Linked DNA regions of Homo sapiens. The protein of the gene in region 1 interacts with the protein of each later gene in a biochemical or structural test. Each region holds a gene or a part of one and is shown in the gene's direction. Other genes may lie near its edges. The genes, in order: XIAP, UBE2D2, UBE2D1, TCF25, PTEN, UBE2E1 and HTRA1.

Region 1 (3,500 bases):
CTATAAATTGACATGGCCAGGAAAGACTGAAGTCCATTGCCAGCTTGCTTTGTGTTGAACATTACTCCAAAAGAGATTAAATTTTAAGGCATATTGTGTCAACATAAAGGCAAAAGAGCTGGCTAATTCTTCTCAAGAAATCAATTAATGGCAGGGCGCGGTGGCTCACGCCTGTAATCCCAGCATTTTGGAAGGCCGAGGCGGGCAGATCACCTGAGGTCAGGAGTTCAAGACCAGCCTGACCAACCTGGAGAAACCCCGTCTCTACTAAAAAATACAAAATTAGCCGGGCATGGTGGCGCATGCCTGTAATCCCAGCTACTTGAGAGGCTGAGGCAGGATAATTGCTTGAACCTGGGAGGCGGAGGTCGCATGAACCAGTATCACACCATTGCACTCCAGCCTGGGCAGCAAGAGCAAAACTCCATCTCAAAAAAAAAAAAAATCAATTAATGCACGCATAATATAGAGACAGAGTCATTGTTACCATTCTCTTATTTTGCCTTTGACAAGTTTATATTGAGCATGTTATCAGGCAATGTGGGAGATTCTGGAGAACCAGGTTTGCCTCATAACTAGGGTTACCATATACTCTAGTTTGCCTGGGGCAACCCTGATTTATGCCTGTTGTCCCAGTGTGATTATTACTAGTGTAATTTTTCACTTTGAGAAGTGTCCAGGTTTGGAGGATAAATTATCTTTCTAATAATTGATACCCTTCTCATAACCTAACGGGTTCCTTTTAGTATTTTATCTGGGTTAAAATTACCAGCTGTAATTTGGCAGCTCTAATAAGACTGCAGCAATACTTATCTTCCATTTGAACAGATTGTTACTTGACCAAGGGAAGTTAATAGCAAAAGTAACTGCAGGGCACATGTATGTCATGGGCAAAAAAAAAAAAGTAACAGCAATTAAGGTTTGCAGGTACTTAGAATTTTTCCTGAGCCACCCTCTAGAGGGCAGTGTTACATATATATCTGTAATTATCCAGTTACAACAAAAAAAGGGCTCTCATTCATGCATGAAAATCAGAAATATTTCATACTCTTAAAGAACACATTGGAACCAATATTATGATTAAAACATATTTTGCTAAGCAAAGAGATATTAAAAATTAATTCATTAACATTCTGAACATTTTTTAACTTGTAAAAACAACTTTGATGCCTTGAATATATAATGATTCATTATAACAATTATGCATAGATTTTAATAATCTGCATATTTTATGCTTTCATGTTTTTCCTAATTAATGATTTGACATGGTTAATAATTATAATATATTCTGCATCACAGTTTACATATTTATGTAAAATAAGCATTTAAAAATTATTAGTTTTATTCTGCCTGCTTAAATATTACTTTCCTCAAAAAGAGAAAACAAAAATGCTAGATTTTACTTTATGACTTGAATGATGTGGTAATGTCGAACTCTAGTATTTAGAATTAGAATGTTTCTTAGCGGTCGTGTAGTTATTTTTATGTCATAAGTGGATAATTTGTTAGCTCCTATAACAAAAGTCTGTTGCTTGTGTTTCACATTTTGGATTTCCTAATATAATGTTCTCTTTTTAGAAAAGGTGGACAAGTCCTATTTTCAAGAGAAGATGACTTTTAACAGTTTTGAAGGATCTAAAACTTGTGTACCTGCAGACATCAATAAGGAAGAAGAATTTGTAGAAGAGTTTAATAGATTAAAAACTTTTGCTAATTTTCCAAGTGGTAGTCCTGTTTCAGCATCAACACTGGCACGAGCAGGGTTTCTTTATACTGGTGAAGGAGATACCGTGCGGTGCTTTAGTTGTCATGCAGCTGTAGATAGATGGCAATATGGAGACTCAGCAGTTGGAAGACACAGGAAAGTATCCCCAAATTGCAGATTTATCAACGGCTTTTATCTTGAAAATAGTGCCACGCAGTCTACAAATTCTGGTATCCAGAATGGTCAGTACAAAGTTGAAAACTATCTGGGAAGCAGAGATCATTTTGCCTTAGACAGGCCATCTGAGACACATGCAGACTATCTTTTGAGAACTGGGCAGGTTGTAGATATATCAGACACCATATACCCGAGGAACCCTGCCATGTATAGTGAAGAAGCTAGATTAAAGTCCTTTCAGAACTGGCCAGACTATGCTCACCTAACCCCAAGAGAGTTAGCAAGTGCTGGACTCTACTACACAGGTATTGGTGACCAAGTGCAGTGCTTTTGTTGTGGTGGAAAACTGAAAAATTGGGAACCTTGTGATCGTGCCTGGTCAGAACACAGGCGACACTTTCCTAATTGCTTCTTTGTTTTGGGCCGGAATCTTAATATTCGAAGTGAATCTGATGCTGTGAGTTCTGATAGGAATTTCCCAAATTCAACAAATCTTCCAAGAAATCCATCCATGGCAGATTATGAAGCACGGATCTTTACTTTTGGGACATGGATATACTCAGTTAACAAGGAGCAGCTTGCAAGAGCTGGATTTTATGCTTTAGGTAAACTTTATTATAAAACCAATAAATAGCTTCCCAAGTATGCCAGGGCTCATAAAAAGTAAATAGATGCCCTTAGCCCCCTGAACTGGTAAATATTTAGGTATAACTTGGCATGATTATATATATATCTGTATTATTCCGTGAACTCTTATGTTGAACCTGTAATGTAACTACTGAATTTATGTGAAAAAGACTACCATATTATGAGTCATGCTTCTCTTCATGTAATTGTTTTTAGGAAGTAGATAACTTGCAAAAGATGGTAGACATCCCCAATAGCAAAATGGGTCTAATAGTAATATTAACCATCATTTATTGAGCACTTACTATAAGTGCTCAATACATATACTTCATGCATTTTCTCTAAGCTTCACAATAGCTTTGTTTGTTTGTTTTTGAGACAGAGTTTCGCTCTTGTTATCCAGGCTGGAGTGCAATGGCGTGATTTAGGCTCACCACAACCTCCACCTCCCGGGTTCAAGCGATTCTCCTGCCTCAGCCTCCTGAGTAGCTGGGATTACAGGCATGTGCCACCACGCCCGGCTAATTTTGTATTTTTAGTAGACACAGGGTCTCTCCCTGTTGGTCAGGCTGGTCTCAAACTCCTGACCTCAGGTGATCCACCCGCCTCGGCCTCCCAAAGTGCTGGGATTACAGGTGCATGCACCATGCCTGGCTAATTTTTGTACTTTTAGTAGAGACAGGGTTTCACCATGGCCAGGCTGGTCTCGAACTCCTGACCTTGTGATCCGCCCGCCTTGGCCTCCCAAAGTGCTGGGATTACAGGCATGAGCCACTGCGCCGGCCATATGAGTACTTTCAAATGGACTGTGGTAGACATTTCAGGAAGGGCCATTGGAGTGATTGCTTCTAAAGATATTTTAAAAAGTTATACCATTATATATTTGACCCATTTATTTTAAGATTGAATAATGCCTATAAAATATTGGTTATTTCGAAAGATTTTATTTATGTACCATCATATAGTAATCTTGAAGGTTTGTTTAGTGTCA
Region 2 (3,500 bases), on another chromosome or scaffold:
CAGTGACAACTTCCCTTAGGTTGCTCAGATCATAGTATGAATGGTAAGTGTGCTAAGTAGTAGCTTAATTATAAGTAAAAACTCTGGCTTTTGATCTCTCATGATGCACTTAGTAGCATGAGAACATGGAACAAGCATCATTTTCTGCATTTGGAAGATATTTATTTATTGAACAAGTTTATAACTTATTAGAAGTATCCCTGGAGCTTGTAATCAACCTTGGGCTTTCAGCTAATATTTTCTTCTTAAATTTTACTCCTTTTTTCTCTTTTTTCCTCTTTAACTTATCCTTTACATTAGGAGAGATGTTTTTCTTTCTTTAATGAGGGCCAGTAATGTACAGACCTACACAAGAGTTTTTAGAAATTTTTTCTCCTTGTTAAAACCAGTCTTTCTTAATTTGAGTATTATCTACCTTGACTTTACTGTTTTGTCCCCCGTATACCAGCATTATAAAAGGAGTCATGCCTGTAATTCCAGCTTTGGGAGGCTGAGGTGGGTGGATCATCTGAGGTCAGGAGTTTGAGACCTGGCCAAACGTGGCAAAACCTTGTCTCTACTAAAAATACAAAAATTAGCCAGGTGTGGTGGCACTTGCCTGTAGTCCCAGCTACTTGGGAGGCTGAGGCAGGAGAATTGCTTGAACCCGGGAGGCGGGGGTTGCAATGAGCCGAAATTGCGCCAGCGCACTCCAGCCTGGGCGATAGAGTGAGACTCTGTCTCAAAAAAAAAAAAAAAAAAAAGTGTATTATATGTAATTGTTTTGAAGAAATGATTTACCCTGTGAGGTAAAGAAATAACTGTTTAAAAGTAGAACTGTAAGCCTTGTCAAGAAGTTTGTCTACCTGACATGAAGTTTCAAGAAGTTTTAGCCCAAATACTTTCGGTTTTTTTTGTTTTTGTTTTTGAGAGAGTCTTGCAGTGGCGCAGTCATGGCTCATTGCAGCCTCCACTTCTCAGGCTCAAGCAGTCCTCTCACCTCAGCTTCTGGAAGTGTTGGGATTACAGGTGTGAGCCACCACACCTGGCTCTAAATATTTTTCATTGAGCACCTTATCAGTGTTCTAGGCCATTCTAGTCATTTTTCTTGTTTCTTTAGACTGTTAATTTATGTTCCTCATCTTGCTCATACTCATTATCATATTATTTATAAATGAATTTGGATTAGAAGGGGAATGATATGTTACTATGGCGTAGATACAATGTAGATATTGTTACATGGTGACTTTTTTCTTGTTATTTTTCAGTGTTCCATTGGCAAGCTACAATAATGGGGCCAGTAAGTATTCAGATTAATTTCAGAATAAACAGTTTATGTAATTTACTCATTTTAATCCCACTTTTCTTGTTATCAACAGAATGACAGTCCCTATCAGGGTGGAGTATTTTTCTTGACAATTCATTTCCCAACAGATTACCCCTTCAAACCACCTAAGGTAATTAATTGGAATGTGGCAGTTTTTAATGTACTTTCTATAATACTAATAAACTAGTTTACAGAAAGTTTCCTTTCTTTCTGTAGGTTGCATTTACAACAAGAATTTATCATCCAAATATTAACAGTAATGGCAGCATTTGTCTTGATATTCTACGATCACAGTGGTCTCCAGCACTAACTATTTCAAAAGGTAACAGTGGGTATTTGATATCAAGATAAAGCAACCGTGTCTTTTGTCTTTTTAGAGTTATTTATTTTTGAAAAGATTACTTATGTTTCTTTTAAGAAGAGATAGCAATTCTTCTTAATCTGAAATGGACCTTGAGAACTGAAAACGAGTTGGATTTTTCAAGCAAAAGTATTCCTTGGTGTAGTGACTAGTCTGTCAGTTGTGCTACTCTAGCATAGGTTAGAAGATGAACACTGGGCCTGGTGCCGTGGCTCATGCCTGTAATCTCAGCACTTTGGGAGGCCGAGGCGGGCAGATCACAAGGTCAGCAGATCGAGACCATCCTGGCTAACATGGTGAAACCCCGTCTCTACTAAAAATACAAAAAAATTAGCTGGGCATGGTGGCAGGTGCCTGTAGTCCCAGCTACTCGGGAGGCTGAGGCAGGAGAATGGTGTGAACCCGGGAGGCAGAGGTTTCAGTGAGCAGAGATTGTGCCACTGCACTCCAGCCTGGGCAACAGAGCGAGACTCTGTCTCAAAAAAAAAAAAGAAGATGGACACTGGTATGAATGTTTTTTTAGAGCATAAAGTAGAGCACAATTAACATCTCTTCCAACCTTGAGATTCATGAATGGAAAAAGATAGATACTATTGCAGAATAGGAAATAGACCAGCCCTTTAGACAAATGCCTATGCTGTAAACATAGACGTTAGGTTCTTGAAGAACAAAATATAGGTAAATATTTTACCAGCTCTTGTCTTTAGGTTTCTGTATCAATGAACTGAGTGATGTAGTTGTTGTCTTAATGTGTTGATTTGAAATTGTACAACCCTTCAACATTATTCCCAGATGAAATCACAGTTGCGTTACAATAATCTAGATTTTTTTTTTTTTTTTTTTTTTTTGAGATGGAGTCTCACTCTGTCGCCCAGGCTAGACTGCAGTGGTGCAATCTTGGCTCATTGAAACCTCCACCTCCCGGGTTCAAGCAATTCTCCTGCCTCAGCCTCCCTTGTAGCTGGGATTACAGGCACCCGCCACCACGCCTAGCTAATTTTTGTATTTTTAGTAGAGACTGGGTTTCGCCATGTTGGCCAGGCTGGTCTCGAACGCCTGACCTTATGATCCACCTGCCTCGGCCTCCCAAAGCGCTGGGATTACAGGCATGAGCCACCGTGCCCAGCCAAATAATCTAGAATTTATAAAGGAAAACAAAAACAAGTATTTATGGCCTGGCACGGTGGCTCACGCCTGTAATCCCAGCACTTTGGGAGGCCGAGGCAGGAGAATCGCTTGAACCCAGGAGGCGGAGGTTGCAGTGAGCTGAGATTGCGCCACTGCACTCCAGCCTGGCCAGCCTGGGGGACAGAGCGAGACTCCGTCTCAAAAACAAGAATATTTATCAGATCTCACTGCTGTACTCTGAAAGGTGATAAAAGAGTTCACTGGATGTACTTTTGTGAAAATGAAATCAGTTGTTTAAGAGAAAAATCAAATATGGTAATGGATTAATATGTTTAAAATATGAAGTACAAAAATCAGAAAAAAATTCAGATCCCAATAGATGAATGGACACAGGGGAACCAAAGAATAAATAAATGAATGTTACGTTCCTATTTTTTACCTTTTTAATTAACAAAGATATTTTTAAAAGAAGACAAAACACTAATGAGGTACATTGAAATGAACACTCATATTCTTCAAGTAGAGGTATAGATTTGTAGAGCCCAGTCTGCCAGTATGTGTTAAGAGACTTAATCATCCATGCCCATTCACCCAATAATTCTAGTTTCATTTATTTATACTAAGAAAACAATCCCAAATGCTGAAAAAACTTTGTATACAAGTACATTTGTGACATTGTGATTTAGTTCTGAAAATTGGAGGTTA
Region 3 (3,500 bases), on another chromosome or scaffold:
GTATAAAAAAATGAGGTAACCTATGACAGTTAAAAAGTTCTGAGATTTCTTCTCTGTGGAAATAAATAGCCTAGAACTAAATAAAGCTGTTTATGCCTATTTTAAGAAGCCAGGCACATATGAAAACCAAACCTAGCAGGATGTGGGATTGCCTCCAGGAAAGCAAAATAGCGTCCTTACTCGCTTTAGTTCCCTGAAATACGCATAGAAAACATATGGGCCCTTTATTTTCATTTAATGAGTGCTACTAATAGAAATGATAAACCTAATATTTAGCCATAAAACTGAGTTAATGGTCATCTACTAATGTAATAGTCCCTGCCTTTTTAATAGTGAATAAACTGATTACATTGAATTAACAACAGGAATTGAGATACTTATCCTCTCTCCTCTCCTGTGAAATGCTGGAATAAATGATACTAGAATATATAATATGACCATATTTGCAGTTTGGGAATTGGAGGGGTAGGTCCTCAGGCCACCTTAGCACATGTGTCTGAAGGCAGGACAGGTTTTATTTCTGGCCCATCTTGGTCTTGATGGTCTCTGAGAAGCTAAGGTTTTTCTGTGCTTAATTTGGTTCTGAGATGAATCTGTGAAGGTTCAGTTTCACACATTAGACAATAACAGGCTGTTGTGTTCCAGGATTGTCCTTAGTATGGGGAGGAAGCTGCTATCTAGAAGCATACAGTCTAGTGCTGTCCATTCCACCATCATGCTCTGCATCCTCTTGTCTTACCTCTTTCTGGATGTATTTCCCACTGTCCTCTATTCATATGGTCCCGTTTGTATGGCTCATCTCTTTTAGTGACACCACAGTTCTTATTTAGATTCCTGGGTTTTTTTTCAGACTTAAGAAACTTCTCCAGTGGGGGTGAGCTGAGGAGTTGGTTCCTTCACCTTAAGCTTCCTCAGATAATAATCTGATTGTTCTCATTCTAGGTGGCCACCCTCCTTATGCGAGCAGAGTTTGGGAGTAGTATGGTTGGATTGTCTAGAGAAAACCAAGTGGACCTAACAAATGGTCTGGGTTCATTTTTCTTCTCTTCTCTTAAACCAGGAAATCTCTGGCTTGTGTTTTTGCTTCTCCCAAATTTTGCTGTATTTTGTTTTCACTTAAATTTAAAGATATTTTCTAGTTTTCCTTTTTATCTCTTCTTTGACCCTTGGATTATTTAGAAATACGTTATTTATTTGCCATATGTTTGGAGATTTTACAGATAGCTTTCTGTTGTTGATTTCTAATTCCATTATGGTCAGAGAACAAATTCTATTATTATTTGACTCCTTTTAAATTGTGGGTACTTGTTTTTTTTGGTTTTTTTTTTGTTTTTTTTTTTTTGAGATGAAGTTTGCTCTTGTCGCCCAGGCTGGAGTACAGTGGCGCGATCTCGGCTCACTGCAACCTCTGCTTCCTGGGTTCAAGCAATTCTCCTGCCTCAGTCTCCCAAGTAGCTGGGATTACAGGCGCCCACCACCACACCCAGCTAATTTTTTGTATTTTTAGTAGAGACAAGGTTTCACCATGTTGGTCAGGCTGGTCTTAAACTTCTGACCTCAGGTGATCCACCTGCCTTAGCCTCCCAAGTGGGGACTTGTTTTATGACCCAGCCTTTTCAGGTGCTCAACAGCACTTTTGAATGAATGATGGTTAATAGTTTGTAGACTTCATTTTGGTATTTTCCAGTTGGTATCTATTGACTGTAGGTTATTTCTAAGAAATGGATGCCAAACTAAGGTGTACACCTTCCCAGTATCTTTTTTTTTCTCTTTTATGAGTTTCCAAACAGTTTAGTGAATAATAAACATCCACTTTTTAAAATGGAATAGAAAATATTAGTGCTTTGCATATAGTAAGGGTGTTGTTTCATGAAATTTGTTTTAGTGTGTGTGTGTGTACTAGGTTGTAATGTAAAATCTTTTTCATATTATAAATTGCTGTAAGGAAAGCTGGAAAATCACTGTTCCATAACATAAGATCCTTAGGTAAAATTAATGTTAAAAATACATGCCATACAACCATACATATACATGTATACATATATAGGGAGAGCAAATGAATACATATACACATACACAGAGACACACAAATATATTGATACACATATACACATAATGTAAACTGTTCTAGCCTTGGAAACGTTTGCATTTGATACAGACCGTATGCATTGTTTTCTTCTACAAGTAGCAGCATTTTAGTGACTGATGTACAACCATAATATTCAAGAATAATACTGGATGATACTAACAGAGAGTAGAGAATTTATTATGAAACACTCAAGTGCCCACTATATGCCAGTTATTAGGTATAGAGCTGTAAGAAGCAATATTTAATAACAAATATTTGGTAGGTATTGGTAGGCATGTTCATGTTTTACACACGTTTTAATAAATAGGCAGCTAGGTTTTCTCTCTTTTTTCTTCCATCTTTTTTTGGTTACTGTAAAGTAAATAGTAAGTTTTGATAATGGAGCACTCAAAATGCTCCATTTGCATATTTTATGTGAAAATTCTATTTATTTAAGTTGTGTATAATTTCCTGTAAAGTTTTTCTTGACTCTCAGAGTGTCTTTAAACACAACGCTCCTGAAAGCTTATGAAATAGTATTCGTTTCTAACCTTTTATATGATATAAGCTCCTGAGAAAAGATAAGAATTCCTTCTCATTCCTTCACTTATCACACTTTTGTTTCTCTGGAGCATAGCTAAAAATGTGCAAATGGCCTTAATACAGTACTGGAGCATTGTTTGCTTCAGTGTTGGTTGAAAATAATGTGCTCTAGCTGTTACAGTGTTGAGGTGAGTATTGAATTGGGGTGGGAAGAGTGCTGGAGTAGAAGTCAGATGGTCTGTCCCTTTGTCCTAGTTTGGCTTTGTGACCTTGGCCAGGAGACTCAGTCTTTATACTCCTCACTTGGAAACTTAATGGATTGAACTTGATACTTTCTGTCATCTCTTCTGAATCATAATTTTAGGCAAACCTAAATAATGTATTTGCTGTTTTTTTTTTTGCAGCAAACAACAGTGATCACAAAAACAAACACTGAGCTTTGGCACTGTGCTATGGAGCTATATTAGACTTGACTTAAAATTCCATTTACTTTGAAATATCAGATTTGAAATAAATGTTGACATCTCTTAATGTATAAGGTCAATAAATCTTATTCTCTAACTAAAGAGCAATTATTTATGATGCAAATAAAATGTATTTCTATTATTGCACTGGTAACATAACGTGGTTCTCTAATTCCATTTAGCTTTTCTCTATTTGTTAGCTTTTGTACTTAAGATTGTTTTATCCACATATTTAGACAACTGCCATACACAGCTGCACAGCTGCCTTATAGGTAATAGTTTTTTTGTTTTTTTTTTTTTTAATGACAAAGTCTGGCTCTGTCACCCAGGCTGGACTGCAGTGGCATGATCTCAGCTCACTGCAACCTCCACCTCCTGCGTTTAGGGGATTCTCATGTCTCAGCCCCCTGAGTAGCTGGGTCTAC
Region 4 (3,500 bases), on another chromosome or scaffold:
CTTAGTTCTTTGAAGTAGATTATAAAATATTAATATTTCCCGACGCGAAAGAGACAGTGGGCTGTTGATGGAAGTAGCAGCCCACCAGCATCCGAAAGTCACAGGGCTCCATGTATCCAGCCTGAGTGCTGTTAGCCACTGTTGAGATTGGAGGATAAATTAAGATCGTAATTGTAACAAGAGATTTTAACTCTCTTCCTGTAAATGATAAATAATAAACAAAAAAACAAGATAAAGATTTCAGCGGGGCGTGGTGGCTCACGCTTGTAATCTCAGCACTTTGGGAGACCGAGGCAGGTGGATCACAAGATCAGGAGATCGAGACCACGGTGAAACCCCGTCTCTACTAAAAATACAAAAAATCAGCTGGGTGTGGTGGCGGGTGCCTGTAGTCTCAGCTACTTGGAGAGGCTGAGGCAGGAGAATGGCATGAACCCAGGAGGCGGAGCTTGCAATGAGCCGAGCCGAGATAGCGCCACTGCACTCCAGCCTGGGTGACAGAGCGAGACTCCGTCTCAAAAAAAAAAAAAAGATTTCAAAGAAGTTTGATTTTCAGTATGCAAATTCGTGTATAACTCTGTAAAGGACAAGGAGAGCGCACACCTCCTCTCCAGACATGGATCTCTGTGTGCTGGGCACGTAGAAAATGCCAGCAGAACCCAGAGAGCAGAATGGGGGTGGAGCGGGTGCTGACCGGGGCGCTAAGCAGTGTGTGGGGTGGAGCGGGTGCTGACTGGGGCGCTGAGCAGTGTGTGGGGTGGAGCGGGTGTTGACTGGGGCGCTGAGCAGTGTGTGGGGTGGAGCGGGTGTTGACTGGGGCGCTGAGCAGTGTGTGGGGTGGAATGGGTGGTACTGGCCAGGACGCTGAGCAGAGGGCGGGGTGGAGTGGGTGCTGGCCGGGGCGCTGAGCAGAGAGCATTCTCCTTTGTGTCGTTGTAATTCATGTGGAACTATTTTGGATCTAGGAGCTTCTACCTGGCCCTCTACAAGCAGATGAGCTTCCTGGAGAAGCGAGGCTGCCCGCGCACGGCGCTGGAGTACTGCAAGCTCATCCTGAGGTGAGTGTCTGCTCAGGGCCAAGCCCGTCCACGCTCCCTGTCCTGGCTGCAGGCCCACTCTCAGCCTGACGATGCCCCTGTTCCCCTTTGCTCTGCTCTCTGTGCTGCCTCCGGAAGTCTCGAGCCGGATGAGGACCCCCTCTGCATGCTGCTGCTCATCGACCACCTGGCCTTGCGGGCCCGGAACTACGAGTACCTGATCCGCCTCTTCCAGGAGTGGGAGGTGGGTGCGAGCCTGGTGAGGCCCCGTGGAGGGACGGACACCTGCTTCTCCTTCTGTTTTCTTGGTTCAGTATCTGTGCGCTCAGGGGACGTTTGGGGATGAAACGATAATCGTCTGAGGGCAGAACCACGTCCTCCTGCCTTGTTTGTCTCCCTTGCCGCCTCTACGGAGTGGAATGTGGTTTTCCTAGGGACAGTACAGCAGCCTTATGTCAGAATCCTCATACGTGTGTACACATGCTCAAACGTGTGTACACATGCACACGTGTGCCTGCAAGGACTGTGATGCTGGTAATGATGAAAAACCGACAACTCCCGAGCTCCTCATGGGCAGTTCAGGAAGATGCAGCCGGGAGGTAGAAGGAGGGTTGGTTGCGTGGGGCTGACACAGGGACCCCCAGCACGTCTGTCCTGTTCCATGGGAAGAGTGTGAGTACAGCAGGAGAGACTTGAGCTCTGTCCCCAGTAACTCTAACACAGACACGTGTTGGAATGATAATTTCGGTGTATTGGGTTAGATATAACGTATTAATCTCACCTGTTTTGTCTTTAATGCAGCTCCCAGAAAATTTAAATTGGGCCGGGCATGGTGGCTCACGCCTGTAATCCCAGCACTTTGGGAGGCCGAGGCGGGCGGATCACCTGAGGTCAGGAGTTTGATACCAGCCTCAACATGGAGAAACCCTGTCTCTACTAAAAATACAAAATTAGCTGGGCGTGGTGGTGCATGCCTGTAATCCCAGCTACTCGGGAGGCTGAGGCAGGAGAATCGCTTGAACCTGGGAGGTGGAGGTTGCGGTGAGCCGAGATCGCGCCATTGCACTCCAGTCTGGGCAACCAGAGTGAAACTCCGTCTCAAAAAAAAAAAAAGAAAATTTAAATTGACACCTGGGCTCCCATTATGTTCCTATGGGGCAGCACTTATCTGGAAGGACACGGGCTTTGTAACGCTAACCTCCAGCAGGGCCTGGGGCTGGGGAGAAGGCGACAGCTCTTGACTTTCTCTGCTTCTGTGTTGAATTTTTTTCATAGCACATGTTCATGGATAATGAAAGTGGGTAAATTATTTTGAATTTTTAAGCATTTGGCATAGTTGGCCAGGAAGTCTCACCCCCAGGAATGTGGTTTATAGAAATTCCTGGAGCTCACAAAAATGTAGGTGCAGGGAAACCTCAGGGAGTCCCCCAAAATGGGGCTGCAGAAGAATGTTGATGATGGTGTTTAAGGTCACAAAACTGTGAGTCTGTGATCCCATTTTGATAGAAAAAAATGCAGTGAGTCACATGTCTACAATATGTGACATAGGCTGAGAAAGGCAAGAGAAACTGGCACGGTGGTAGACTGCTCGGAAACTCGCGTGGCGGGCTGCTCTCGGAAACTCGCGCGGCAGTGGGCTGCTCTCACAGACTCGCGCGGGGGTGGGCTGCTCTCGTCTGTAAATTTTCCACATTGAGAGCACCAACTGCTCAGCTTCAGAGAGGAGCCTGGGCGGCAGGTGGGACCCTCACTCCCCACGGTGTCCTCGCTCCGGCTCAGTCTACTTCTCAGGCCCTCCCACGTCCTCTGTATCTTCTGCATGCGGAAAGCCCCCCAGGTGGACGTTTTAAGTTATCTTTATGCTGAGTTAGGAAGAGGCCCTTGCGTTGCCTGCAGAATATACCTGCTCGGGGTAGGGCTCACTGGTGATGTCAGAGCGTCTGCAAACTCACATATTTTGTCTTTATGACTTAAGGCTCCACGCTCTGTTTCTTCGTCCCTCGTAGGCTCATCGGAACCTGTCCCAGCTCCCTAATTTTGCCTTCTCTGTTCCACTGGCGTATTTCCTGCTGAGCCAGCAGACAGACCTCCCTGAGTGTGAGCAGAGCTCTGCCAGGCAGAAGGCCTCTCTCCTGATACAGCAGGCGCTCACCATGTTCCCTGGAGGTGAGTGAGCGCTGTGTCTCGCCTGGGGTAGGGGTGTGTCCTGTCAGCCGTGGGGGCTGCTCTTCCTGGTGGTGGAGGCCAGGTCCCAGTCCTTCCCCACACTTGTAGAAACATGCATTCTCTGGTAGGGCCTGCAAACCTGCCCTACCAAACCTGAAAGAGGGTCGGCTCATCTCGGAACCCGCTGCGTGCCAAGCCAGGCACGAGGAGGTGGCAGGCATCCCGACCCCCGTGGGGCCTGTGTTCTAGAGTGCAGAGACAGAACTGGCTGGGAGGTGCGGGGCATTGGATTGTACC
Region 5 (3,500 bases), on another chromosome or scaffold:
TGATTTTAAATTATCAGGGTTATTAAGACCTTAAAATTATTTTACCAGGTTTTTACATGTGAGCTGTGACATGACTGGCATTTTCTTTGATTTCAGCGTATGTTGGTCTCTACACATGAAATTTGTGTGACTTAAAACTTTCTCTAAAACTGTACTTTTAGTTATGATATGCATAGAAAGCAGTATCAAATATTGCGTCAAATGACTAATAACACTTAATTTCTAGAGTTGTGGTTTTATTGAGCCAAAAGTTGATATGAAAAAAAGTCAGTAAGGAAAGTCAGTGAAGTGCTTGCTTTTTTGATAATTGCACTCCCAATAATTTTGATATTCCAACGTACTTGGTTTGCTTGTTTTCACGTTAATGTTTTCTGTTTATTGGAGTGGGAAGGCATTAAAATTGTCATTGAAGACTTTGTCTTTGACATGTTGTAGTATTTATTTCAGTAACTAACCTGTGAAAAGTTAAATTCCTTTATGAAAGTAGTGATTGGAGTATTTTTATCTGATAAAGAAAGATTAATAATGAAGCCATTTCTCCGAGGAAAATTGAGGACAATAATTCAGTTTTAAAATATTATCGCAAAATTAAATTATTCTAAAAATTTGTTAGTAGGGTTATATGCTTAATATTAGTCTGAAATATAGTGCTGAATTTGAGACTATAGAAAAATTAAGTGTATTTAGGGTATGTGGAAACGTTAGGCTTCTGTTGTATTTTTATTGTTTGGTAGATTTGCCTCTTTTCAAATAAATGTTCACAGGGAATACTTTTAACTTGTAGAGAGTACAGTGACTATTGAAGTTACCTAAATTACCTCAAGGTAAGTGATTACTGAAATTAATCATGAGGGTTTTAAAAAGTATTCTATTCACAACATTTATTTTACATTGTTTTGTATCTGCTAAGTTATATTTCCTGAAAAACATGACTGGACCACCTAATTGCTGTATGATAACTTACAAACTTCATTTTTCATAGTGCTTATTCAAGTGTAAAGCACAACTGAAAGGAGTAATGTACAGTTTATATGAGGAAAAAGGAATTTTATTGCTGCCAGTGTAAAAGTTTGCACAGCAGTATAGTCATCAATGCAGATTTACATTGCTTATAATATACTAAGTAAATACTAAATGATTAAAGATAATAAAATATGGTGAGGTATAACCACCTTCATTTTAAACTTAGTTTTAGAAGATAGTAAAGAAAGATTCCTTTATTACCTTTTTAGAATTTTATTTTTAATAACATGGGAAAGGCAACTGGTGATATTTTAATTTTTGTATGGAACAGTGCATCTGCTTTCTCATAGCCACATAAAATACATAAACTTCTTAGTGTTATGAAATGGCTTACTTTTTGGAAGTGAAGAAGTCTTCAATTCTTATTTTCTAATGTTATTTTGAAATTTGCCTCCATTTGCTGTTTGTTCATTTGGTGATAGCGCAACACTTAAAAAAATATTTTAAGCCGCTTCTGAAGTAATCACTTCAGTGACTTTTAATGGAGGAGTATTTGTTATGGGAAATTCACTTCACAAAGTTTTAACATTAATTCACTTGAAGTAAACGTGCTATTTTTAAATTTTCATCTCAATCTTTTAAGTAAGACGAAAGCTTAGGAAATCACTTTTATTATTGATATTGTGTGTGACTTCAGAGTTTGTAAAGAGAATTGTAGAAGTGTTGCATGCATATGACAATTTTCTGCTTAATTGAAATGTGAGGCCTCTGCCATACTACAAGGATTTAGCTTCCAGAAAATGTAATATTAACATAGCTTAAGAAATGTATTTTTTTTTTTCTGTAGAAACCGTTGGGTTAAACAAACAGTTCAGAAGTTTTATTACATGGAACCCATTAGTTCTTAATCTTGTTACCTTTTTCTTCATTTTTTCTGTTAAACTTGATTTTCACAGTCAGCATTGAAGAATTCATCTTGTGGCCTGAATTCATTAAGAAAAGATGTTAGGATTTGTTCTGAAGATAGTGACTTAGGAAATTTGTGAGACTGGGGTCAGTCAGTTCTGTTTTACAATTGCTTTCTATTTGGTAGCTTTGAAATTAATTTAGTTGCTTATCAGAGAGAATAATGTTGAGGTTAGACTAACCTTAAATTGGTAAGGCTTTGCTGAGCAAACTGATAACTGTAAGTCTTTTATAGGGTGCATTACTGCCACATATACGTTCTTCCATAGGTGGTTAAAAGTATATTGGTCTGTGTTTGGTGATTCTCTTTGTACATATTGAGTATATGCATTCACTAATGTAAAATAATTTGCCAAGAAAGGTGAAATTAGTATATTGTACTTGACTATTCACCTTTCCCTTAGTTTTTTGAATTTTTTTCATTGGTTGCAGAGGAAGTATTAGCAATTTAATTCTTTTAAAATAATTTGCACTGGAATAAATAAGTATCGGCAAATATAAGAAGAGTAACATAATTTAAGGGTGAATTAATTTTATTTGGGAAGTTTTAGTTCTGTATAGTTAAGGCAGATTCTTCATTTGCAACAGTTGACATTGGGACATGTGTGAACATCTTCAAGGTATTAGGACATCTTCAAGGCATTACTTTTTGGCAGTGTTGAGAATTTTTTTTTTTTTTTTTTTTTTTTTGAGATGGAATCTCGCTCTATCGCCCAGTCTGGGGTGCAGTGGCAGGATCTCGGCTCACTGGAACCTCTGCCTCCCAGGTTCAGGCGATTCTCCTGCCTGAACCTCCCAAGCAGCTGGGATTATAGGTGCATGCCACCACGCCCAGATAGTTTTTGTACTTTTAGTAGAGATGGGGTTTTACCACCTTGGCCAGGCTGGTCTCAAACTCCAGACCTCAAGTGATCCGCCTGCCTCGGCCTCCCAAAATGCTGGGATTACAGGCGTGAGCCACTGCGCCTGGCCAGTGTTGAGAATATTGAGAGATGGATATTGTAGCTGTACCTGCCATCAAAAGAATTTTCTTGACCTCCACATAGTGTGAAAAAGAAGACTGTTTACACATTATATTTTAAGTAATTATACACATAATTATTATCAGTACTCACCACTTCAAATATGAACAGTGAATCTAACCAGTGTTTGATTTCTCTGTGTGTGTATGTGTATACAAAGTTAGCAAACCTTTTATCTTAATATTTATTAAAAAACGAATTTTTGTTTCTTTAAAGAAAAGACTACCTTAGAGAATATTGTTCTATAGTTTTTAAATATGGTCAGATCTATTTTAAATTATGTTAAAATTTTGAGTATTACGTTTATCTATACTTTTAAGCATATATACATTGTTTCATTTTAGATTTTAGGGAGGCAGTGTGGGCTCTGGAGCCAGACTGCTTGTTTTGTAATCCTGGATCTTCCATTTAGTAGCTGGATGACTTTGAGTAGGTTATTTAGATTTTCTCAATCTATTTTATCTGTAAAATGGGGATGATAATGGAACCTACCGCATACGTTTATCTTGAATAGTAAGTGAGATAATAATAAGTAATTTCATTTAGCAT
Region 6 (3,500 bases), on another chromosome or scaffold:
TGAAAAGCTAAATGAAGTATTTTGTTTAGTAACAGTGAACTTTGGAAACTAATTAGTGGATTAAATACAAAACTATTGCCGTTTTGGTTACATTCATTCTTAATGTTGATTAGGTGTGGGATGCTCTTCCGTGAAACTTTGTCCTGTTTTGTAAGGAAAGTCATTTTGAGTTTGAAATGCTCTTAAACTATAGTTTATAATTGGAACACTTAATCATTCTGGGGAATTCTTTCCTGGCTAATAATCTCTCAAGATGGTTGAGAAGTGGAAAAACCATAAGACTTAGGCCTAACTCATTATTTTGATGGTGGTGGTTCACGTGGAAGCCTGTAGCTTCCCTTGGTTGTTTGTGTGGAATCCATGTACATTCCCCAAGGTGGTTCTGTGCTGTCTAGTTATTGCTCCTGCTTGGTATTGTGTGTCTCCTATGTGTGTGTTATTAATAACATTGATTAAAACATATAATGGCTTTCTTGTGAATAAGCACAGTCAAATCTAAAATTGTAAACCATTTGAAGATTTTCATGGGATTAAGCATTTAAAAAAAAAAAACAGTGTAAGTACACTTCAGTTTCACATCGTTTTAACTGAGTTTATGTGTGAAAGATTTATGCTCCTGAGGCATGTGGAACTTTTTTATCTTTGGGAAACCCTCCCAATTACCCCTTCAAGGTGAAACGTTTGGGAATTACCTGTGGTCAGGGGATGCACCAAACTGGGTGGCTGTTGGGTGATTGGTGTTACGGAGTCAAAGCTCAAAATACTAAATTTTAAGAAAAATCTCTGATTTGAGAGAAAATACGAGGCATCTTCATTTTGCAAGAGAATGTATATTACATTGTCTTTTAACAATAAAGATGACTTTATTTTCTGAAGATATTTTCCAGTGGGGCCGTTTGAGTAATGTGAATTAAAATTTTTACTTTTGGTTGGCTAATGGTGCTGTCTTAATGTTATATAGTAGTCCCAATATTCAGCTCTCTTAAAAGAGTTCGGTTTTACGTTTTGTGCTGTTACCTTTTGGAATTTAATTATTTAGTATTTTAATGTACTTTATTGGAGATAAAGATGGATTATTTATTTATTTATTTATTTATTTTCTTTTTGAGACGGAGTCTTGCTCTGTAGCCCAGGCTGGAGTGCAGTGGCATGATTTCGGCTCATTGCAACCTCCACCTCCCGGGTCCTGGTTCAAGCAATTCTCCTGCCTCCTGAGTAGCTGGGATTATAGGCACGTGCCACCATGCCCAGCTAATTTTTGTATTTTGGGTAGAGATGGGGTTTCACCATGTTGGCCAGGCAGGTCTTGAACTCCTGACCTTGTGATCTGCCCGCCTTGGCCTCCCAAAGTGCTGGGGTTACGGGCGTGAGCCACTGCACCTGGCCTTGGGGATACTTTTTGAAGTCAGCGTCCAATGAAAATCTATGAATTAAGTGATATATTAAGTGCGTACATGTTTAAAATTACCCTCAGCATGAAAGCATGAGATTTGAATGAGTTAAATAATTGGTTTTCAATTAGTCTGTCTTATATTTTTACCCTTTGCCATACTTCCTTTCTTCAGTCAGCATTCAGTGTGTAGTTTTAAACACGTTATTAAAATATGGCACTTGGCACATAGTAACTTCTCAGTAAATACAAAAATTAGCCGGGCATGGTGATGCACTCCAGCCTGGGCGACAGAGTGAGACCCTGTCTCAAAAAAAAAAGTTGATTATTGCAAATCAGTAGAATTGCTCCTCTTGAAGGAAGGTGCACTGTTTGTGTTCACTAATTTTGGCACTTGGCAAAAATATTTGAAGTTACTGAGCATCAAAACTTATGTGAAATGCAATTGCTCAATATGTTATAATGTATGAAAACATAAAATTAAATTCTTAATGTTGTATATTATGTTGGGTGGATATTTTTTAGAACACAGTACAGATTGTGTTCAATGACCTGGTCCAAAGTCATTTTAAGTAAGTATTTTCAAACTGCTTTATGTTGCCATAGAAATCAAATTCTTAATTTTAGTATCTGTGATTTGTGTGTGTGTGTATATATATGCATACACACACACACAAAATAGTTTCCCAACTCACTCTTCATTTTGGTTAGGCTTTTATTCCCATATCATTTAGCTCTATTCTTTTAGGGAAAAAAATATGTTAACTTTGTAATGATTCCCTAAAGCGTGCCAGATCTTAGATTGTAAAATTATGCCTTTTAGATAGCTGATGAACTCTGGGCCACCAGAGTCAGTTTTGCAGCTGTTATTTATAGCCCAGGGCTCAAACTTTGCTAAATTGACTAGTTATAACTAGCCTGTAGACACGAATATCTGTAGACAGTATGTCTATACAGACTAAATGGCATATTTTGCCTAAGTCCTTTAAACTTCAGATTTTATTTAATGGATATATTTGTTTCATGAGTAAATGTCTCAGTGACTTAACCTAGAAATTCAGATGGGGTGCTATTTTAGGATAAAATGTCTGAAAAGTCATTAAACACTTCAAGCATGGGTGAGAATAATAAAAATACATTTCTTTCTTTCTCACTTTTTTTTTGAGACAGGGTCTCATTTTGTCACCCAGGCTGGAGTGCAGTGGTGCTCACTGCAGCCTTGACCTCCTGGGCTTAAGCTGTCCTCCTGCTTCAGGCCCCCAAGTAGCAGGAACTACAGGCGTTCGACACTACACTCGGTTAATTTTTTGTATTTTTTTGTAGAGACCAGGTTTTACCTATTGGCCAGGCTGATCTTAAACTCCTGGCCTCAAGCCGTCCACCCACTTTGCCCTTCCAGAGTGCTGGGATTACAGGCGTGAGCCATGGTGCCTGGCCCTGATACTAGTTTTTCTGTATGTGACAGAATTTCCATTTAGCCTTCTTTTGATAGCTTTTTTTTCCCTAACACTGCCTATATTTTAAATAGTTTTAAGCCATTATATTATACAAGAATGCATGTTTTTGAAAAATTCAAATACAGAAGTTTGTGGAGTAAAAGGCAAAAGATAGTCCTGATGACCTCTTCTGATCCTGCTCCTTGCACACAGATGCTCCAAGTTAGCACTTTGTATACTTCCACGTAGTTTCTGTGAATTTACATTGTGTTTTTCTGGCATTCCAATACCTCCTCGAATTGGTGGTAATGGTAATGAGATGTCAGTTCAGAAGTCCCAGGCTGCTCATCATGGTTCACAATGGAAAGAGATCCTTTTCTTGCAACAGTGGAGTGTTACATACCTCGTCCAGGTTCAGCATGTTTTAAATGGTTGTTTGGGTATAAGAAATAGGTTCAGCAGAAGTCATCCTTTATAAAACCCTGTATCTTATGTGCTAAAAAGTATTCTTCCTTTTAGCATCTTTCATTTATCTGATGTTACTAAATGCGTTAAGGATAGAAGTGTGACTTAAACATCTGAATGATGTTTAGTTTCACCATTGCAGTGTGTATACCTTTATGCATGTAAAGGCAGTGTTGAAAAATTGTGACAACCAGGAGACTGGGGTTTCA
Region 7 (3,500 bases), on another chromosome or scaffold:
AGCAAAACATGAGAGCTATTTTTGAGATACATTAAAGTGTCAAAGTGTCACTGAATATCTTCCTACTTAAGATAAGTGTGTCTCCCTTAGAACATTTTCCCTATTCGACTATATAAATCTACATTCTTGACCCTTCTGAATGTTTAAAGAACCTCGGGCTCTGAAGAGATTCTCTAAGAATATTTTGTAAGTGGAAGTTTTTGATGCATGCAAAAAATTGGCAGGATGTTTAGTGTTTAAATGCTAAGCCCGATATATAAAGGAGCGATGGCTAGGTGTGTGTGGCTGTTGCACAACCCATTAATCAATGCGTTGAAGCGTTCATTTTAAGGTGCTACAGGCTTAAGTGTGTACTCCTTTGGATTTTAGGCTTCCGTTTTCTAAACGAGAGGTGCCGGTGGCTAGTGGGTCTGGGTTTATTGTGTCGGAAGATGGACTGATCGTGACAAATGCCCACGTGGTGACCAACAAGCACCGGGTCAAAGTTGAGCTGAAGAACGGTGCCACTTACGAAGCCAAAATCAAGGATGTGGATGAGAAAGCAGACATCGCACTCATCAAAATTGACCACCAGGTAAGGGTGTTCTCGCCTGCAGAGGTGAGTTCTCAGATGCCCCGGAACACCCTTGGCAAAGGCACCAGAGCTCTCTGATTGCAGCTGATTCTCGGGGGGCACTGAAGCCAGTCTGAGCCAGTCACAGGAGGGCCTTGAGGAGATGCTGAGTATGGCCTGGGGGTGTGGGAGAGGAAGGGGCTCAGGAAAACTTCTGTAAGGAGCCAGATAAAAGTTTTTAAAATAATGTTTTAAATGTTTGTCAAAGAAAGCAATAGATTTGTAAAGAAATTAGTAGGTAAGTAGTGAAAATTGATTCTCCTTCCCATTCCCAATCCTGTGGCAACTCTTGTTACAGATTTTATTTATCCTCCACAGATACATCATGCGTTCACAATGAACATAGAATTTACTGGGTTTTAGACTGAGCCATCCTTAACTTGTCAACAGTTACTTTGAAAACAAACCAGCTCTCCCAAATTGGGGTTTTGCGGGGTTATGAGATGTGTTTCAAAAGAATGTTTCGTACTTTAAACATCTTGGAAAACTTGAATTAAAACAGAGCTAATGGATTTCTTCTTTCCAGACCTTCTCAGAGCTTTTAGTATGCTAGTGTGCACGTGGCTTGCCTACAAAAGGGTGTTGACTGAACTATTTGCCCAAATTATAATCATTTGAGTATACAGCTTTTTGTGGGGGCAGGCAGAACTGAGACATACCAAAATCAGTTTGGGAAATGCTGTATTTGAAAATGCTTTCTATTTAAATATTCTCTTTGCAATCATTTTTGCTCTGTTGATTTGCTTAGCAAAGTCTTCATGTCTGGGACAATATCCATTTCTTACTGACTCATCAAAAACCCCCACTCGACACGTCGATGAGAGAGGTTTTGTTTGCTGTGTGGCATGTTCAGTGAAAGCGTGGTTTCCAGTTTCTTCACATCCTTATAATTTTCTAGACTTCAGATGGAGGGAACAATCAGAGGAGGCTGGAATCCTGCCTCTGACCAAGGAAAAGACCAGAGGCTGAGCCAGGTGGGGTCTCTTGTCCAGCCCTCTGCTTGCCTCGCTTTACCTGGGTGTGGGCTGAGTAATTCCAGACAAGCGTGGAATTAATCTGGCTGTTTGTGCTGTTCAGTGGCACGCTGGTTACACCTCCTTCTGGAAACAACTCTGCGTGTGCTGTTTGGGTGGTAGGATTCCGGGTCTCCTTCTCCGTCTTTTTATAACATCAAGTTGCTGCCCAGCTCAGGCTCCTTTACGGCCAGTCTTCAGAAAACCACCAGCTAACACATTTACTACCCTCCTTCCCCGATGTTCCTGTAGCTTCTCTATGGCTGGGTGGCCAGGCATGGCCGAAGAGGCTCTGGGTAGATATAGGCTCTGTGCCCGGTGTGTGTAACTGGCCTTGAGTGAGGCTGCAGTTGTGTGTTATTTCTATTAGGTCACTGTGGAATTTCTAGCGACAACTAATCTTTCAAAGTGTGTTTATTGGTCACAGGATTATTGGGCCAGCCTCTGCCTTCATTCTTTTTCACCTAATCTGCATAATAGCTGTGTTATCCCCATTTTAGAGAAGAAGAAACAGGGGCTCAGAGAAGTCTAGTAACCTGTGTGAGGCCACACAGCAAACACCTCATGACCCTGCCCTCCTAAGGCAGCCCATGGCTACTGCTGGAGGGATAGAGGCCGGCCCCGTGGTTTGATGGGACAGCTTGACCTTAAACAGCCCATGGGAAGGCGGGTGCATCTGGTTTAGGAACAGGCTGCTAGAAAGGTATCCAGGATGTGGTAGTCTCACCGGAAGGAGCCAGTCAGAATAGCACAGCCTGTGGCCACGCGTGGGACCTGTTCAGCCTCATGGAGCTTTGGGAGGCAGCCAGCAGCAGGGCATGGGCTGTGTGCAGGCGAGGCGCTGGCCTGGACGCCGCCCCCACTGCGTAACTTCGTGTTTGGAATGCGTGGGCACATACCGTGCGGCTGCTTCTGGCCGGGGGATATTCTTTTCCAATTTTGAGCCAAGGTGGAGACTGTCTCCTCGTGCCATCCCTGGCATGTCCTGGCAAGACGTGAACGATCTCAATAGACGAGCTTTGCAGAGTGTGTCTGACCTGACTCCTGCTGTCTTGGGAGTTTAGCTCTTCAGCCAGCAGCATGCTGTTTGACATGTGTTTCAAGCCCCCCAAGAAAGGGTGCTTGAAATTTAAAATTGAACTGATGTGGCTTTTCAAAATGGAATTGGAAATGAAAGGATATTAAATTGCAGACACCCACACAAAAGACTGGTTTCCACTGACTAAACTGCTTTTTTTTGCTGATAGTAGTTGAAAGTAGGGAGAGTAACAGCATCTCTTCCAGCTTTTTCTCTTTTGTTCCCTTGTTTTGATGATGGGTTATTTCGGGGGAAGCTCTGGCTGGCCTTGCTTTGTGTCATCTTAGGGATAACAAAGAGGATGAAAGAGATCAGGAAAACCGAGAAGGCAGAACAGAACCAGCAGAAACTGTGCTTGAGGAATGAAAATCACCTACACGGCTCCTTGTCATATGAGACTGTGGCCCAGCCTCCTGCAAAGCCATTTAAGAGTAACCCAGTGAAGCTGGTGAGACTGCCTGCCGCGTCCGTGGGCCCAGTGACTAACTCGGTGGCTTATCATCTGGGCCCAGCTCCTCCCCTGGCATCCTGATTTCACTTGGAGGGGCCCCCGTTGTCCTTCATAAACATGTTTATTTCATTTTATTTTTATGTTTTGAGACAGAGTTTTACTGTTGCCCAGGCTGGAGTGCAGTGGCGCCATCTCCGCTCACTGCAACCTCCACCTCCAGGACTCAAGTGATTCTCCTGCCTCAGCCTCCTGAGTGGCTGGGACTACAGGCGTGCACCACCATGCCTGGCTACTTTTTGTATTTTTAGTAGAGACCGGGTTTTGCCATGTTGGCCAGGCTGGTCT

What was found.
Region 2: the proteins of XIAP (region 1) and UBE2D2 form a complex in vitro, tested with the Homo sapiens proteins (6 studies listed by BioGRID).
Region 3: the proteins of XIAP (region 1) and UBE2D1 form a complex in vitro, tested with the Homo sapiens proteins (8 studies listed by BioGRID and IntAct).
Region 4: the proteins of XIAP (region 1) and TCF25 form a complex in vitro, tested with the Homo sapiens proteins (one study listed by BioGRID).
Region 5: of the proteins of XIAP (region 1) and PTEN, one has a biochemical effect on the other in vitro, tested with the Homo sapiens proteins (2 studies listed by BioGRID).
Region 6: the proteins of XIAP (region 1) and UBE2E1 form a complex in vitro, tested with the Homo sapiens proteins (one study listed by BioGRID).
Region 7: the proteins of XIAP (region 1) and HTRA1 form a complex in vitro, tested with the Homo sapiens proteins (2 studies listed by BioGRID and IntAct, with this or other methods).

The regions. Positions count from the first base shown.
Region 1 is NC_000023.11:123,884,053-123,887,552, forward strand, and holds part of XIAP (E3 ubiquitin-protein ligase XIAP), read left to right. Parts: intron 1-1,578; 5' UTR 1,579-1,610; coding exon 1,611-2,487; intron 2,488-3,500.
Region 2 is NC_000005.10:139,613,339-139,616,838, forward strand, and holds part of UBE2D2 (ubiquitin-conjugating enzyme E2 D2), read left to right. Parts: intron 1-1,247; coding exon 1,248-1,279; intron 1,280-1,358; coding exon 1,359-1,436; intron 1,437-1,522; coding exon 1,523-1,628; intron 1,629-3,500.
Region 3 is NC_000010.11:58,341,506-58,345,005, forward strand, and holds part of UBE2D1 (ubiquitin-conjugating enzyme E2 D1), read left to right. Parts: intron 1-3,500.
Region 4 is NC_000016.10:89,897,592-89,901,091, forward strand, and holds part of TCF25 (ribosome quality control complex subunit TCF25), read left to right. Parts: intron 1-965; coding exon 966-1,058; intron 1,059-1,175; coding exon 1,176-1,281; intron 1,282-3,043; coding exon 3,044-3,203; intron 3,204-3,500. UniProt on the Homo sapiens protein: Component of the ribosome quality control complex (RQC), a ribosome-associated complex that mediates ubiquitination and extraction of incompletely synthesized nascent chains for proteasomal degradation.
Region 5 is NC_000010.11:87,866,625-87,870,124, forward strand, and holds part of PTEN (phosphatidylinositol 3,4,5-trisphosphate 3-phosphatase and dual-specificity protein phosphatase PTEN), read left to right. Parts: intron 1-3,500. UniProt on the Homo sapiens protein: Dual-specificity protein phosphatase, dephosphorylating tyrosine-, serine- and threonine-phosphorylated proteins.
Region 6 is NC_000003.12:23,812,455-23,815,954, forward strand, and holds part of UBE2E1 (ubiquitin-conjugating enzyme E2 E1), read left to right. Parts: intron 1-3,500. UniProt on the Homo sapiens protein: Accepts ubiquitin from the E1 complex and catalyzes its covalent attachment to other proteins. Catalyzes the covalent attachment of ISG15 to other proteins. Mediates the selective degradation of short-lived and abnormal proteins.
Region 7 is NC_000010.11:122,489,053-122,492,552, forward strand, and holds part of HTRA1 (serine protease HTRA1 precursor), read left to right. Parts: intron 1-369; coding exon 370-574; intron 575-3,500. UniProt on the Homo sapiens protein: Serine protease with a variety of targets, including extracellular matrix proteins such as fibronectin. HTRA1-generated fibronectin fragments further induce synovial cells to up-regulate MMP1 and MMP3 production.